4 separate regions of the Homo sapiens genome follow, and regions 2, 3 and 4 are each linked to region 1. The links come from fine-mapping of genetic effects on gene expression. A gene starts in region 1. Each other region holds a variant in brackets. All regions are shown on one strand. Distances are from middle to middle. Region 1 holds the start of GSR (glutathione-disulfide reductase). Region 2 overlaps GSR (glutathione-disulfide reductase). Region 3 overlaps RBPMS (RNA binding protein, mRNA processing factor). Region 4 overlaps GSR (glutathione-disulfide reductase).

Evidence for each region. PIP is the estimated chance that this variant, and not a neighbour inherited with it, causes the effect. A credible set is the group of variants that fine-mapping cannot tell apart.
Region 2: its variant is the best candidate, but not a certain one, in a credible set for the expression of GSR in hypothalamus (GTEx, PIP 0.55).
Region 3: its variant is the best candidate, but not a certain one, in a credible set for the expression of GSR in whole blood (TOPMed, PIP 0.87).
Region 4: its variant is the best candidate, but not a certain one, in a credible set for the expression of GSR in CD8 T cells (CEDAR, PIP 0.79).

The regions. Positions count from the first base shown.
Region 1 is chr8:30,726,255-30,728,939 of GRCh38, reverse strand. It overlaps GSR (glutathione-disulfide reductase), which reads left to right and starts at 1,094. Exons shown (of 13, transcript NM_000637.5): 1 at 1,094-1,410. The coding sequence starts at 1,105. RefSeq lists silencers at 834-923, 994-1,433 and an enhancer at 1,509-2,196.
Region 2 is chr8:30,697,564-30,700,248 of GRCh38, reverse strand. It overlaps GSR (glutathione-disulfide reductase), which reads left to right. Exons shown (of 13, transcript NM_000637.5): 6 at 114-168. Among named protein-coding and RNA genes, the nearest start is that of GSR, 29 kb to the left of the region's middle. The variant A/GGA (reference allele first, on the strand shown) is at 1,385.
Region 3 is chr8:30,490,882-30,493,566 of GRCh38, reverse strand. The region is part of intron 4 of RBPMS (RNA binding protein, mRNA processing factor); the gene reads right to left. Among named protein-coding and RNA genes, the nearest start is that of RBPMS-AS1, 110 kb to the right of the region's middle. The variant T/C (reference allele first, on the strand shown) is at 1,223.
Region 4 is chr8:30,676,206-30,678,890 of GRCh38, reverse strand. GSR (glutathione-disulfide reductase) reads left to right here. Exons shown (of 13, transcript NM_000637.5): 13 at 1-825. Among named protein-coding and RNA genes, the nearest start is that of GTF2E2, 19 kb to the right of the region's middle. The variant G/TTTG (reference allele first, on the strand shown) is at 1,127.

The DNA of each region.
Region 1 (2,685 bases):
GGCTTACAACTCTAAGGGGTCTACGTGAAAAAATCATAATAGATCAAGTAAGCGTGGGAAACGTGACTGGGGGCTATATACATCAGCTAACAGAACAAAAAGTTTTACAGTGCTTTCTCATACAATGTCTGGAATTTACAGATAACACCAATAGTTTTGGTCAGGGGTTAATAATATTATTATTATCTTAGCCACCAGGGCCAGGTGGTGGTGCCAAGGTCGTCTAGCTATTTATCTTACTTCTGTTTCTTTCCAACTTTTTGCTTTCTCCCTTTTCTCCTGTCTTATAAACTAGGGAAAAGGGGAGGTTGGGGAGAAACTGAGAAGGACAACAGGAGAAGTGGTGACCTCATACCATAATCCTAGCATTTTGGGAGGCCGAGGTGAGAGAATCGCTTGAGGCCAAGAGTTCCCTACCAGTCCTGGTAACATAGTGAGACCCTATTTCTAAAAAAAAAATAAAAATAATAAAAAAAATAAAAAAAAAAATTAAATAAATAAATAAATAAATTAGCTGGGCGCTGTGGCGGGCACCTGTAGTTCCCAGCTACCGGGAAGGCTGAGGAGGGAGGATCGCTGCTTGAGCACAGTAGGTGGAGGCTGCAGTGAGCAGAGATCGCATCACTGCACCCCTGCCTGGGGGAGAGTGAGACCCAGTCTCAAAGAAAAAGCAAGAACAAACAAAAGTGGTCTCTGGAACAAACCTGGACAAACAACCCTTCGAATAGAGGCAAATTTCTCTTCCTGGAGAAGCCGTGCCACTGGCAACTCCCCAGGGGGCCAGCTCGGGAAAAGCCAGCTGAAACGAGAGGACGTTCACCGTTCCTCGCCTCGATCCACCGGACTTCAGAAGGCTACACGCGGCAGGCGCCGCTCGGGATCCAGGGGCCGGGGTGAGAACGGAGGCGGAGAAACCCCTCAGGCTCCGCCACCGGGGCGGGGAACTGGGAGGCGGCCCCGCCTCTGGGCATCCTCCTGGGTCTTGCCTAGCGGCGGGCGCATGCTTAGTCACCGTGAGGCTGCGCTTGCCCGGGGCCCGCGCCCCCCTACCCCGGGGACCGCCCCCGGGCCGCCCGCCCCACTTGGCGCGCCACTTCCGCGTGCATGGCCCTGCTGCCCCGAGCCCTGAGCGCCGGCGCGGGACCGAGCTGGCGGCGGGCGGCGCGCGCCTTCCGAGGCTTCCTGCTGCTTCTGCCCGAGCCCGCGGCCCTCACGCGCGCCCTCTCCCGTGCCATGGCCTGCAGGCAGGAGCCGCAGCCGCAGGGCCCGCCGCCCGCTGCTGGCGCCGTGGCCTCCTATGACTACCTGGTGATCGGGGGCGGCTCGGGCGGGCTGGCCAGCGCGCGCAGGGCGGCCGAGCTGGGTGCCAGGGCCGCCGTGGTGGAGAGCCACAAGCTGGGTGGCACTTGCGTGAGTACCGCCGGTTTGTTCGGGCGGGGGGCGCCTCTTTGTCTCGGTCTTTCGGGGGACAGCCTGTGCTCGTTCCTATGGCGATCCTGTCCCCCGGCGCTGGGCTTTCCTCTTTTCCACCCCCGCAACTCCCCATTCCGAAGCCAGGAACCCAGCAGGTGGAGGAGAGAGAGGCGTCCGGGGGCTTCTCTGCGGCCCGCAAAGCCGAGCCAGCGTCTGCTTCCGCACGGATGCGATATTGACCAGGGCCGGGGCGGGTTAGATTAACCTTCCTCCATCCTCACTTGTCCAAGTGGGAGAGGATTGGATTCTGTTCTTGACCGCGTGAAACACAAAACTGCATCTGGGAACATTGCTGGTGGCCTGTGTGTAGGGACGAGGGTGACGGTGCCATAGATCCTGGTTCTTGAAAAATGTAGATCCTGGTTCTCCCGTTTCAAGGGCAGAATGATTTATAGCGGTTGTTGTCAACCTTGGCTACACATTCGAATCACCTGAGGGTGCCTGGATTCCCGACTTAATTGGTCTGAGGTGCACTTGGGCTTTGGGATGTTTCCCGACTTAATTGGTCTGAAGTGCAGCCTGGGCTTTGGGATTTTCGGGTGATCTGAATTGCAGCCAAGGCGACCTTGAGTAGGTGAGTTCTCAGAGCTTTTGTTTTGTCTTGGTTTTATGTGGATTGCAAAACTAAAAACAGAGGGATGTAAATCCTGAGATTTACAAAATTCATAATTTTTGAAAATAAGGGTTTTTGTTTGTGTTTGTTTTTTGAGACAGGGTCTTGCCCTGTCACCTAGGCTAGAGTGCAGTGGCCATCATAGCTCACTGCAGCCTCGAACTCCCGGGCTCAAGGGATCCTCTCACCTTGGCCTCCTGAGTAGCTGGAACTACAGGGGGCTAATCACCACGCCTAGTTAATTATTATTATTTTTTGTAGAGATGGGGGTCTCGCTATGTTGCCCTTGCTGATTTCAACCTCTTGGACTCAACCGATCTTCCCGCCTCAGCCTCCCAAAGTGCTGGGATTACAAGCCTGAGCCACTGCACTCATTCTAAAAATAAATGTTGTTTCCAAGTTATTGGTGTGCCCGCCCTTTTCTATCACAAGATTTGGGTGTTGACGATTAAAATGCTGTATCCAAGAGGAACCTGGGATTTGGGATAGGTTCTCTAAATTCCTTTGGAGATGAATATTTAAATTATGTCAAATTGGGAGCTCTTTAAGGACAGGGATGGGCTTCTGTGTTTGTGTGTCTCTTATCACCTTAAAATCCC
Region 2 (2,685 bases), 29 kb after region 1:
AAACGGAGACTATGTTGGCTGTGAAAGTGTTTGGTTTTTGGCATAAAATGTTGTGATTACTTTGCAAGAGAAAGAGCAGTCTTGTGTGATCTATGTTGCCTTTTTCTACATAGGTGCCAGCTTAGGAATAACCAGCGATGGATTTTTTCAGCTGGAAGAATTGCCCGGGTAAGCCAACCTGACCTGACCTCAGTGACTCATTCTTCCTTACTGTCTCCTGGTAACTTTTCTTCGTCTTCTCCTCCCAAGCATTTAATGTAGGCCTTTCCTGAATTCCCTCCTCTTACAGCTTCTCTTTTCATGACCTTGTATATCTCATTCCTAGAACTCCTCAGTAGATCCCTCAAATCTTTCATGCTTTCAATCAGAGGCCAAAGTCAAATGCAGGGTAATTTGAAGACTGCATAGCAAAGTCCTAAAACTGTCTTCTTTCTTCAACTTAATACAGCATCAATTAAGAATGTGTCTAAAGTAGCTTGTATTTTAGAATAGAATAGCTGGTTTTGGCCAGATGTGGTGGCTCATGGCTGTAATCCTAGCACTTTGGGAGGCTGAAGCGGGCAGATCACCTGAGGTCAGGAGCTCGAGACCAGCCTGGCCAACATGGTGAAACCCTGTCTCTACTAAAACTATGGAAATTAGCTGGGTGTGGTGGTGTGGGCCTGTAGTCTCAGCTACTCGGGAAGCTGAGGCAGGAGAATCACTTGAATTCTCAAGGCGGAGTTGCAGTGAGACAAGATCACACCAAGAAAGAAAGAAAGAGAGAGAGAGTGCCACCACGCCCCGCTAATTTTGTATTTTTAGTAGAGGTGGGTTTTCTCCATGTTGGTCAGGCTGGTCTCAAACTCCTGACCTCAGGTGATCCGCCCGCCTCAGCCTCCCAAAGTGCTGGAATTACAGATGTGAGCCACCACACCTGGCCAGATTTTCTTTTAATGAACAAACATTTTTTTTTTTAGAGACAGGGTCTTCTTCCATCGCCCAGGCAGGAGTGCAGTGGTGCCATCATGGCTTGTGGTAGCCTTGAGCTCTTGGGCTCAAGCAATCCTTTCACCTCAGCCTCCCGAGTAGCTGGGACTACAAACGTGCACCACCATACCTGGTTAACTTTTTAATTTAAATTTTTGTAGAGATGGGGTCTCGTTCTGTTGTCCAGGCTGGTCTAGAATTCCTGGCCTCAAGCAATCCTCCCACCTTGGCCTCTCAAAGCAGTAGGAATACAAGCATGGGCCACCGTGCTGAATGGATTTAGATTCATAGAGGGGCAAAAAGATCATGAGGAAGTTTGTTTCTCTGATTTGAAGTTGCTGTACATTGCAGGCTTTCTAGTTTAGAGGGATGCTCCTGTCACTTGTGAGAAGAGGTGATGCCTGGAAACAGGTGG[A/GGA]GGGACCCAATGTGTTGGCGCAGGGACTGGCCTTCATTCATCTTCTGAGTGGCACTCACTGTGGAGTTTGCATTGCTCAACTCTTCTGCTCCCTCAGGGGCTGTGCTAATCCAGTTTGAGGTCCTAATCCTATGCTTTTAGAAGGGCTTTTAGGGAGAGTGACTCATAGTCCATGAGCCTATCTTCACTTTGATTCACCCAGAGTCATGGACAGTTCAGACAGCACGAGGCAGTTCAGAAAGGACCAGGGAGCTGCTTTGCAGTTCCATAGGATGGTGAAAATGTCCCTTGAAGATACCTCAGACCAGGCAGGCTTCTGACTTGGAGGAGTTCTAAGAAAACCATACAATCTTTTTTGGTTTGCTATCAGGTCGCAGAAATGTGTTAGAGAACAGCCTTCCTTCCCTGTGATCCACCCTGCATTGTTTGATTTTAGGGTTGAGTGACATGACATATGTGAGGATGTAGTGAGACATACAGTCATGACTCATTATGTTTGGATAATGTAATTTCATTCCGGACTCACCCTCAAAGAAGTTTCATTATAAATAGCTGTTCATTAGCAATTTTAAATATTTACATTTATGCATGTCATCAACAAAAGGCTCTGAAACACAAGAAAATGAATTTACGATTGATACGTGATTCTTCAAGTCTACTTTATCTTTGTTACGGTGTTGGTGAATAAGTAATAACTGGGCAAGTACATAAATAATGTAGGGAAGATAGCATGATTTAGTTTTTGCACTGAGGGGGCTTCTGTTTGGATGGAGCATGAACCTTGTGGAATACTGTGCATGAGTAGTCCTGGGGCTGCAACGAGGTAAAGAGAAATCTTTTAGGGATTCAGCCGCCTGAAAGATCAGTTCCAGAAGCCAGGCACAGTGGCTTATGCCTGTAATCTCAGCACTTTGGGAGGCCTGAGGCGAGCGAATTTCTTGAGCCCAGGAGTTTGAAACCAGCCTAGGCAACACAGCACAACCCGATCTCTGCAAAAAAAATACAAAAATTAGCTGGGTGTGTTGGCACATGCTGGTAGTCTTGGCTACTTGGGAGGCTCAGGCCGGAGGATCACTTGAGCCTAGGAGTTCGAGACCAGCCTGGGCAACATAGGGAGATATTGTCTCTGCACAGAGTTTTTTCCTCTCTGAAGAAATGAGGCTAAAGAGCTTTAAAAACAATGAAAAATACATTTCCCTTCTGTGACGGGATATTAGGGATTTTTCTTTTCTTTTGAGATAGGGTCTTTTGCTCTGTCACCCAGGCTGGACTGCAGTGGTATAGTCATAGCTCACTGCAGC
Region 3 (2,685 bases), 240 kb after region 1:
TGATGCTCACATTTTTACACCGAGAACTCTGAAGGTGAACAGAAGGTAAAGCAGCAGGTCAACTGCTCTGGTAGGCATAAAAACATCCCTTAGAATCCTTAATGCACAAACACCAAACGTGGCTGGTGCTGCCAGTAGTCCCTTTCATTGCAGAGTCCTTACTGCCTTTTCCTCTCCTGTCTCACTGTAAGGATAATGAATAAACCCATTGGCATACATTCTTTCCCCTTTGCATCAATGTCTTTTTCTCCTGCTACCTGCTAAATGAAGGCACTCAAAATGAAAGCTTAAAGGAAGCAGATCCTAGGCAATAGCTCTCAATTCAGTTAAATTTTCAACTCTGATAGAGACCTTGGGGTGATTTGGGGAAAACCTATAAACAAATTTTTAATGGTCCATATTGGCTTAATGTTGGCCCAAGACATTCCAGTCTGATGTCGGTCACTGTCAAGTGACACCAAAGAAACTTCAGAATTTTAATGGCCAACTTCACTGACTTGGGAAATCAACAGTGGGTTTGCCTCAACAAAGCACGTCCTTGTATTTGACTAAAGCCTTATGGGTGTCACATCAAAAATTTCAGAAATGTGGCATAGAAACCATGCCCTGTCAATGTGAACATGTAAATGATTTCCCGATTATGTGATTCATCTCTGTAAAGCTCAGATCATAGGCTTAAATCAGTGAATTTGGCACCAAAAAGGAAAAAAAGAGTAAGAAAAAAAGAAAACAACAATAAAATGGACAAAAGAAATCACAACCTTATTCTTAAAGAAGCCAGTCTATATTACTGAAACAGGCCAGTCTAGAAAATACACACCCCTTTGGTTACATAGTGAATCCAGTGAAAAAGTAGGGGGGTTTATGTGCAAATTCATTATCAATAACAACTTTAAAAGTAGCTTGTATTTTTTTTTCCTAGTGATTGCAAATTGAGAGAATCACTTTCATTCATAAGGGCCACATATGTGCCCATACAGCTTCTGCCAAGTACAAAACCCAGGATTAAACTTGGAAGGGATGGGTTTTGAAATACTTACTAATTTCATATCCAATTAGCAGATGACGATCTAGATCCTTTAAAGATAAAAGGGGTATTTTTTTTTTAAGTCAAAGGGTTACTGGTGTTGACAAGCGTGGTGTCAGCTCTTTAAAGAAAGGACTAATTATACATAATTACACATTAATCTTCTAATTACTGAAAAGGAGATCAACCTACTTT[T/C]GCATCTAATACATATTATGCACTTATCAGGCAAAATGAGACAATGGATGCATGCATGTGTGAAAGTGCTTTATGCACTCAAAGATAAGTTGAATAATTAACACTGTGTAATATAAAAAGTCTCAGAGAATTATTTTAAAAAACAAGTGTGTCGGCTGGGCGCAGTGGCTCACACCTGTAATGTCAGCACTTTGGGAGGCCGGGGCAGGTGGATCACCTGAGGTCAGGAGTTCGAGACCAGCCTGACAACCATGGTGAAACCCTATCTCTAATAAAAATACAAAAATTAGCCAGACGTGGTGCTGCACGCCTGTAATCCCAGCTACTCAGGAGGCTGAGGCAGAAGAATTGCCTGAATCGTGGAGGCCGGAGATTGCAGTGAGCCGAGATTGTGCCATTGCACTCCAGCCTGGGCGACAAGAGCGAAACTCCATTGGGGGAGGGGTGGGGGTGTCTGTGTCTACATGGAAAAGCACATGAAGAATAAGTCCTACTTGTGAGGTAGGCAGGCTAAGAGAATGCATTTAACGAGCTCTTCTTTTAGCTTCACCTTAAGTGCTTGTTAGGTCATTTGAGGACCTATCTTAACTTTCTGTATATGTTTTAAGGATCGTTCTGCAAAGTTTACTTTGAGCTTTTATTAGTGGCTGGTGCAGAAGAAAAAAAGAGGTAGGAGGAGGAGAGAAAACAGTACTGACATAAACAAACTCTACAATTGAAAAAAAACAGTTGCCTAAACTTTCCAAAACCATTTTGAGAAGATTTCTATTTAAAGATCAGACATAGACCGCAATAGGCCTCCAAGTATATTTTCACAATCCTGTTTCTGCTCTCCAGTATTTTAGCAATCAGCCCCCCAGCCCCCAACAGGATCCAGTGAAACCTCCCACCCTGTGTGTGCCCAACCAAGTTTAGGTAATGTTAATGAAATGAAATACCAAGAGCAAGTAGAAAACGTGCATTTTCTTGTTTTCTTCCCCCTCCCCCAAAGATAATCACTATCTTGATCTAGCTACTAATTTTCAAACTGTACAACTTGACAACAAATTTTTAGAAAGAAAAAGCTGTAGTACATTTAAAAAATACAAATAATTTTATAAGTCAATGGTTTTATATCCTTTATTTCACTAAGGATAAAAATGAGCCATTTATACCAATACATTATTTACTGGTCCTCAACATCATTTACTAATACCATATACTAAATTAATCAATAGGGTTGGGGGAGATGTCACTGATGAATTTCATAAAAGTACAGAAATAAGCAAAGTGGGTAAATTTGCTCCTTAACCCTATTTTTTAAAACACCTCTAACACACACCATCAAATGGCTTGCAACCTCCTTCCAACCAAGAACTTGGGGCTTAAGGCACAAGTTAGTTGAAAAGAATGTAAACAGTCAAGTCCAAACTTAGGAAGTTCACTGCAAAGTACTTCCTGTGCTGCACAGGGAGCCAAAACAA
Region 4 (2,685 bases), 50 kb after region 1:
GGCGTGAGCCACTGTGCCAGCTTGCTAATTTTCACAGAAGTTGATGGCAATTCTTCACATGTAAACAGTGCCAGTGCACAGAACCTTTATATATTTTTTGAAGCCAGTACTGTGCTCTGCATATAACAAAGCTGCTTCAAGGATGAGACCTTTTTCTAAAAGCATGTAATGTGAGAAGCCGGCCTGCCTTATTTTCTTTTTTCTTTTTTAATGATTAAAAATAGTTTGTGGCAAGGCACGGTGGCTCAGGCCTGTAATTCTAGCACTTTGGGAGGCCGAGGCAGGAGGATTACTTGAGCCTACAAGTTTGAGGCCAGCATGCACAGCATAGCAAGACTGCATCTCTACAGAGAGTAAAAAAAATTACCCGAGTGTGGTGATGTGCATCTGTAATCTCAGCTACTTGGGAGGCTGAGGTGAGAGGATCACTTGAGCTTGGGTGAGGTGAGGCTGCAGTGAGTCCTGATCATGCTGCTGCACTCAATCTTGGACAACAGAGCAAGACCCTGTCTCAAAAAAAAAAAAAAAAAATATATATATATATATATATTATTTTTATGAGGTGAAGTGCATCAAACTTGGGAAAGATTTGAGGAGGCTGGGAACCTCCTGGAAAACCACTCCTTGAAGAAAGATATGAGAGACATTTAGAAGTGATTCCTGCTTTCAGAAGGAGGTGGATTCAAATACATCAAAAGTCCCTTCCTCTGCTAAGTGTTTATAGTTCAATGAATAATTTCAATATTTGTATGTGTTCTTGTCATTTTATTTTTTTCTGAAAAACTTCCAAAAATTTGAAAATAAAATTACAGCCTTTTCTTCTTATAAAATTTGTTACTGTGAGCTTTAATTGGTACACAGGAAATTGGTTTATTTTCTAAGGATATTTCACATTGGAGAATCAGTTGCCTGTGCTTACGGGGGTGAAAAGAGAGTTCTCGTATAAAAATAAAGATCGAAGGTATAAAAGAAACATTTAGCAGATTAATGATTGAGTTGGAAGAAAAGCCTAGAAATCACTTAGGTCTTTAACACTTTATTTCTATTAGGTTTTACCAGCTAGTTAAATTTTTCCAGGATTTTCATTAGTCATCCAGTGTTACTGAATACTTTTTTTTTTTTTTTT[G/TTTG]AGACAGGGTCTAGCTTTGTCGCCAGGCTGGGGTGCAGTGGTGTGATCTCAGGTCACTGCAGCCTCCCGGGGTCAAGCAGTTCTCCTGCCTCAGCCTCCTGAGTAGCTGGGATCACAGGCACGCGCCACCACACCCAGCTAATTTTTGTATTTTTAGTAGAGATGGGGTTTCACCATGTTGGCCAGGATGGTCTTGATCTGTTGACCTCGTGATCTGCCCGCCTTGGCCTCCCAAAGTGCTGGGATTACAGGCGTGAGCCACTGCACTGGACCCACTGAATTCTTTACTGTGTGTTCTGTTAAGCTTTTACTGACTGTCTTTCTGGTTAGTGATGGCCAGTTACTGAACTGACTTTTTTTTTTTTTTTTGAAACCAAGCCTGGCTCTGTTGCCTAGGCTGGAGTACAGTGGCACGATCTCGGCTCACTGCAGCCTCTGCCTCCCGGGGTCAAGCGATTCTCCTGCCTCAGCCTCCTGAGTAGCTGAGACTACAGGTGCACACCACCACACCTGGCTAATTCTTGTACTTTTAGTAGAGATGGGTTTTCACCGTGTTGGCCAGGCTGGTCTTGAACTCCTGACCTTAGAAGTAATCTGCCCACCTCGGCCTCCCAAAGTGCTGAGATTACAGGCGTGAGCCACCACATCCGGCCTGCACTGACTTCTTAAGTAGGCCCAATGTCAATGAAAGAAAAATATTGTATTAGCAAGGAAGTTATATGTATTGTGGTGGGACAAGAAAATAGGATCCCCAAACTTGGGCATGGACTAATGTAGGCACTTCTCCCCTCTTCCCCTAGCCTAAAAGACAGTGGACCAAGGTTCTAGGCTTCATTCTGCTGGTGGATTTCTCACTGCACAGGCCCCAGCCTTGAGGTGTGCCTCTGTCAGGGAAATGGGAGGCCCTAGTAGCCACATCTATTTTAACATCATGTGTTCTTAATCTCATATTTATCCTGCCTGTGTGCTGGTTCCATAGTAAACCAACAAGAAAGTACAGTACCCTTATCTGAGTTCCTGTCTGCATTCTCATCGGTCCTTGAACTGGCCCAGCCCTTGAGGTGTTGTGGCTTAACAGCCTCTATTACTGAAAGTGCCAAGAAATATATAGCAGCTCACACCTATAATCCCAGCACTTTGGGAGGCCAAGACAGGTGGATCACCTGAGGTCAGGGGTTCGAGACCAGCCTGGCCAACATGATGAAACCCCATCTCTACTAAAAATACAAAAATTAGCTAGGCGTGGTGGCTGGCATCTGTAATCCCAGCTACTCAGGAGGCTGAGATAGGAGAATCGCTTGAACCTAGGAGGCACAGGTCACAGTGAGCCAAGATGGCACCACTGCACTCCAGCCCAGGCAATAGTGTGAGACTCCATCTCAAAAAAAAAAAAAAAAATGCTGGGCGCGGTGGCTCACACCTGCAATCCCAGCACTTTGGGAGGTCGAGGTGGGCAGATCACGAAGTCATGAGATCGAGACCATCCTGGCTAACATGGTGAAACCCTGTCTCTACTAAAAATACAAAAAAATTAGCCGGGCATGGTGGTGGGCGCCTGT